2 separate regions of the Homo sapiens genome follow, and region 2 is linked to region 1. The links come from fine-mapping of genetic effects on gene expression. A gene starts in region 1. The other region holds a variant in brackets. All regions are shown on one strand. Distances are between the middles of the regions. Region 1 holds the start of PBRM1 (polybromo 1). Region 2 overlaps PBRM1 (polybromo 1).

Evidence for each region.
Region 2: its variant is fine-mapped to the expression of PBRM1 in fibroblasts (GTEx, PIP 0.99).

Annotation. Positions count from the first base shown.
Region 1 is chr3:52,684,233-52,687,155 of GRCh38, forward strand. PBRM1 (polybromo 1) reads right to left here and starts at 1,681. Exons shown (of 32, transcript NM_001405607.1): 1 at 1,517-1,681. GNL3 (G protein nucleolar 3) reads left to right here and starts at 1,800. Exons shown (of 15, transcript NM_014366.5): 1 at 1,800-1,873; 2 at 2,537-2,595. The coding sequence starts at 1,861. RefSeq lists silencers at 1,268-1,417, 1,488-1,637 and enhancers at 1,275-1,963, 1,958-2,027.
Region 2 is chr3:52,544,811-52,547,733 of GRCh38, forward strand. It overlaps PBRM1 (polybromo 1), which reads right to left. Exons shown (of 32, transcript NM_001405607.1): 32 at 557-2,923. Among named protein-coding and RNA genes, the nearest start is that of UQCC5, 9.7 kb to the left of the region's middle. The variant A/G (reference allele first, on the strand shown) is at 1,347.

The DNA.
Region 1 (2,923 bases):
TGAAGAGGAAAGACAGATTCCAGAGTTCAATGCCAAGTTTTAAAATGGCCTTGATTACAGTTACAAGTTCAAAAGTCTAACAATCAATAATTTATAGTGGACAGTTAAGAATACTTAATAATGTGCAACTGGGAGAATATCGACTTACTATAGACAAACAGTGTATTTCGACCGTTTATGAACTTTAGCCCTCTCCTATATTTCTAGTAATATTTAGCAATACAATACATGTTTAAAACAAAATCTTGGAAAACAGGACTCAAAGGAAAAAAAACACCTATAAACCTACTTCCAAGAAAAAAACCACTCTTAACGTTGTCATTCGGTTTTTGGTATTTATGCCTTAGTTACCTATTATTTTTTACCAAAATGTTAACAAACCACATATATTATTCTACAGCCTGTGTTTTAGTGAAGGTTCTTCCAAGTCAACATTCTTCCTCATGATGTTTGATGACTTGATAGTAATCTATCATATAGATACACCACAATTTACTTATCTTGGGAATTTTGGTAGGATATTAACATTTGAGGTATTTTGTACATTCCCAAAGCCAAAGAAAGCGGTCAAGGCCCTTCCATTCATCCACACATAAACTCTTTATTGTTTTAATTTGAAACACCTCTTCAAAACATATTTTCCAATCTTCCATTTTGGAGCTCAAAATCAAATATGGGCGACCTGTAAGTAATAAAGCAAAAATTATGCTACTCTTTTATGTGCATGAGTCCAATTTGCACTTTTTGGGGAAAAGCACATAGCCAAATGGAGAAAAAAATAATACCTAAAATTATTTGTCAAGAATCCTGTGTTGGAAAGTAAGTTAATTAAAACAATTCACCCCAACATACGCTTCTATAATTATTGTAAGAATTTCTATATCCACTATACCGTGTACTTATTTTTCAGGGCTTTTTCTATATTTTTGCAACTCTTTCTTCCCCTTTAAATTAAAACTTATTATAATAACAAAACTGTGCTTCCCCAAACCAAGAAATATACACAGTTCCCAAAATCCCGGATTCTTTGTGGTGTTGAGAAGCTGAAATATCTGGCCTCTACTATAAATACAAGTCCCATTGATTAAAATACCCGGAAAAAATACGGAAAGAAAATCACTAAGAGTTTGTGTCGAACCGTCAAGAAACCACAACAAAAAAAAGAGGCCCTGAGCAACGGAGGAAATGAAGGACTTTCCCGACCTGTCACTGGTATTGGGGACTGAGGGAAACGTTGACAGCTTTGAAGCTGCCCCGCGACGAGCGGGAAAGAGGAGCGCGGGGAGTTTCCGACCCGTAGTGCGCCTTTGTCCCTGCCGGCAGGTGCGACAAGGCTACTGGGCCCATCCGGAGGCCAGCCGCCGCGCCCCGCCCAACCCCGCGCGCCCGGCCCGACCCGCGCGTCCCCACGGCCGGGGCGGGGCTTCCGCCGCGGCTCCCGCCCGCCCGGGCCCACACAAAGGCCCGGCAGCTGACCAAGGGGGAGCGGCCCCACCCGCCCTGGGCCCGGCCTTACCCAGCCGCTCCGCCGCCTGCAGCCCCGGCCGCGGTCACCGACCGCCGCGCCCCGCCCCGTGGCCGCCACGGCTGCTGCTATTGCTCCTCCGGCCGCGGCCGCTGCCGTCGCTTCGGCACCCGCCGCCCTCACCTCCCTTACCCCTCCCGGTGCCGCCGCAAAACCAGTCCCGCGGCCGCCAAGCGATCCCTGCTCCGCGCGACACTGCGTGCCCGCGCACGCAGAGAGGCGGTGACGCACTTTACGGCGGCAGCGTAAGTGCGTGACGCTCGTCAGTGGCTTCAGTTCACACGTGGCGCCAGCGGAGGCAGGTTGATGTGTTTGTGCTTCCTTCTACAGCCAATATGAAAAGGCCTAGTAAGTGGGGTCGGGAGGCGGGCGTGGAGGGACCCACGTCTGGAAGTTGCTGCAGCCACCACGACGCTCTTCTACGGCTACGGCTTTGTCTCTGCTGGTATGGGGGTGGGAGCCTACGCGTAGGCCTTGGCCCTATTTCCTGGTAGAACCGAGAGTTGGAAGTCCCTACGGCGATCATGTTAACCGCGCGGGCTCATTCTGCGGAACGAAGCCGGGCAGAGGGTGGGGAAGACTAGGCTAGATTTTCGTAAGGAAGCAGCGTCTGAGCCAGGTTTGAGGCCCAATATTTTCTTTCCGTGGCCACGTGCAGACTGGCCCAGGTGAGAGCTGAGAATCGCCTCCCAGACTCAGTGTTCCTCTCCTGCCTTATGATTCGTGCTGTTTGACACGAAGTGGTTGTCGTTTTGTGTCTCATACGCTGTTGTGTATGATCCCATTCTAATATTGTGAGGGTAAGTGCAGGGAATTTTGACTCCATTCTGGATCTACTGAATTTAATTCTCTGGGATTTGAAAGTAGCACGTATGTTTGCATTAGGCATTTCGCATTAGACTTAACGTTAGGTTTGGTAGCCAATAACACAAGAAAAGGATATAACTCCATAGTGCGTTAACCCAGAACTAATCATTTGGGTTAACAGATTTGTGATGTGTTTCTTTGTAGAGTTAAAGAAAGCAAGTAAACGCATGACCTGCCATAAGCGGTATAAAATCCAAAAAAAGGTAAGTGTAGTGCTTGAGAGAGCTGTACCAAACACATTGCTAAACTGATTTTGCCCTGTTCCTTTGCGGGAAAGTCTGGGTTAATGTGATTTGGTTTTGGGAAATGGCATTGGATAGACTGACCATGGGCACAAGCTCTTAGGCATCAGGAGTGCAGCTGTGAGAAAGTGCAGTGATTTGGTGATAAGTCTCTAAATTTGTTCAGCATGTTAATCTCTGCATAGAGAGCCTTCTAGTTACAATTTCTTGCTGTTTTATACTTACATATGCATTACTTTGTAAGATTCCAATTAAAGCTCCATTTTCCTAGGACATTTTATAGGCATAA
Region 2 (2,923 bases), 140 kb before region 1:
GGGCACAGATGCCGGTACTATCCTAAATTCAGGAGAACAGAACCACAGGGATTTGCAAAGTGATATTAGAGGAAAACAGTTGGTTGCTTTTACCAACACTTTCTATTAAAAGCATGGTCATGTTTTAAGAGTTTATAAAGATGTTAAAGACACCTGGGCCACCTGTTTCTTCTGGCCACAGACAAGCTATTTGAAGTGGGCTATACTGCTTACATGCTTTCCTCACTTTCCGCCCTCAGTAATTCTCCAATTTTAATTTCAACCTGCATTTCTGCCCATGCTGAGGACATGTAGGAATTCCTTGACTGCCAGCCTGAGGCGTGGCGTGGGGCACTTCAGTCTGCAGTCTGACTACATTTGGCTCTGTGTTAATGCAGCCCGAGCCCTGAACCAGAGGTCTGGACACTGACTTTCATCTCCATCTGTGGAGCTTTGTTCTCTTAAATTGGCAGTCACATACAACCTTGTCAGCATGAAATCAGGGCTTGCAGGAGTTAAATCTGCTTGAAACATCTGACACCACTTTAACAGAACAACCAAACCTGGTTAATCCAAATCACTTTGCAAACTCTGTATTTATTTGGATTAAAAAGCTTTAGATGAACAACAAAAAAAAGATACATACATGTTATAAGACTAGTTACCACGTAAACCTCAGATGATATGATACAGAAATTAGAATAAACCAAGTTTTAATCAGGTATGAAAACATTCAAGCTCAAAATCATCAACACCAATTTGGGGATTTTACAGAAATAGGTGCCCCTCTCAATTCTTCCTCATAGGAAGGGGAGAGTGGCTTAAAAAAAAAACAACAACCAAAACAGTTAAAGGCCTTTTAAATCAGTTGGCTGACAAACATACTGTTTTAAACCTACAGGTTCCCCTCAGTCCCCCCGTTTGCAATATAAACAATTCTTCTCCACAGGAACTTACATTTTGAAAACATTTAGGCCATTATACTTTCTAAGCCACATTACTACAGTTCCTAAAACTTATGAAAAAAAGGTGTATAGTTTACTTGTACTTTCTTGAGTCAATTTTTTTTTCTTTTTTGAAGATGGCTGACCTCAAATCTTATATCCTAAATATTAACGATATCCCCCAAGTTAATATACAGAAAAACATGATTCTAAAATAAATACACAGGCTTTTTAAAAAAAACTTAATTAGGGCCTGTCTAGTGATGCCCTGGGCCGGTGCTGCACTGCTTTAGGGAAGCCCCTGGCTGGATCTATGTTTCCTATAGCACCTCTAGGCACTGGGAAGGAGCCTGGAGGAGAGCTCTGGCTTCTAATGACCCACGTGGCCCCCAGTGAAAAATTTTTTTAGAGGCTCCCCAAAGA[A/G]GTCTCATCCAGACCTTAAGGGAAATAAAATGAATGCATGAAATAAATAAATAATTTAACCACAACTAAATTTCATGTTCTTTGGTGTAATTCAAGGATGTCTAGAAACAAAATAATCTGATTGCATTATACAGTCCATGATGATTCAATTGCCCAAATAGCCAGGAATTGAAGATTTATCTGACTCACTTTAACAATAAGGTACTGACACACTACTGCAATACATTTTTTTAAATTCAATATTATTTAAAATACTTGATGCAAATTCAAATCCAGTGGTTGACTAAAGGCAATTAAGTTAAAGGGCCTCCCATATTTAAAGTATCTAGATACAAGAGACTTTTTTCCATTCTACACTCTTTTGCCCTCATGATTTAATAAGTACAGTAATTAAACATCTGGGTACTGATTCATAGCAGATTAAAAGGAAAAAAGCATCCTCTGAGATTAACTCTCTCAGATTATAAACAGCAGTGGAAGCTCTACCACAATGGCAATCACCCAGTTACTATAAAGCAGGTTTCAAAAACATGCCGCCAAGTGAAACAATGTTCCTACTGTCTGCCATCCTATGCTGCCTTCAAATGTTTATTGTAGGGTCATATAAGAAAGACAGGGTCACCAAACCCAAGTGTTTGGGATCTGTAATGGTCTTTCTAGTAAGCGTTTTATTAAATTATGATTCCCTTCTCCTGTAATTCAAAAGCACAAGCTAAATTTAAAAAATATTTTAGAAAGTATTAAATTTCTGGTTGAGAATTATAACAACATTGAAACTTAAAAGAAAAAATACATCTGATAATAAGGAAATAAGGAATACTAAAACATACTTGTATATGAAGGCAATCAATCTACTTGTTCACAATTATGCTTCTTATACAGCTCATATCTAGTTCCATACTCTCTTACCCATGTTAGGTTAGGTGTTATGTTTAAAAATAAATCACCTCCATGCATACCTTAATGCTTTCTTCAAGACGAACTTCAATGTTTTTCAATGTAACAGGTTTAAAATTTTAAATCATCTGAAATTTATAGGCATAAATTGTGAATTCATTATAAATAGATCAAAATATCCTTAAACGTACCTGCCTAGATTAAACATACCTCAGGGTTGTGCACGTGTTCTGCAAAAATCACTGACACCATAGTCTAACTCACAGATGTCTAACTCAGCACAATTGAAAAAGTGCTTTTTCCCCTCCTGGTGTCCAGGAGGTACATTAGCTGCAGACAGATGCACAGCACTGATTACATATTTCTGTAGTGAGCCTCTGAGTTAATAGAGCAAATGTGCTGTGTCTATTAAACATCTAAAACCTAAATAACCACCTTTCAAAGAAAGCACTTCATCTGTAAGAAACAGCTTTTGCAGAAAGTGGCTTAAGATATTCAGGCACATGAAACAAACACAAGTATACTCCCCTCTCTAAGATGTAAACTAGGACAAACTTCACATTTCATTATCAATTTAAACTAATCTGTAAACTCTTGTGTGTGTGTGTTTTTTTTCATTTTGTTCTTTTATATATATATATAAAAAAACCCAAAACCAAGAAAACAAAAACCCCAAGCCA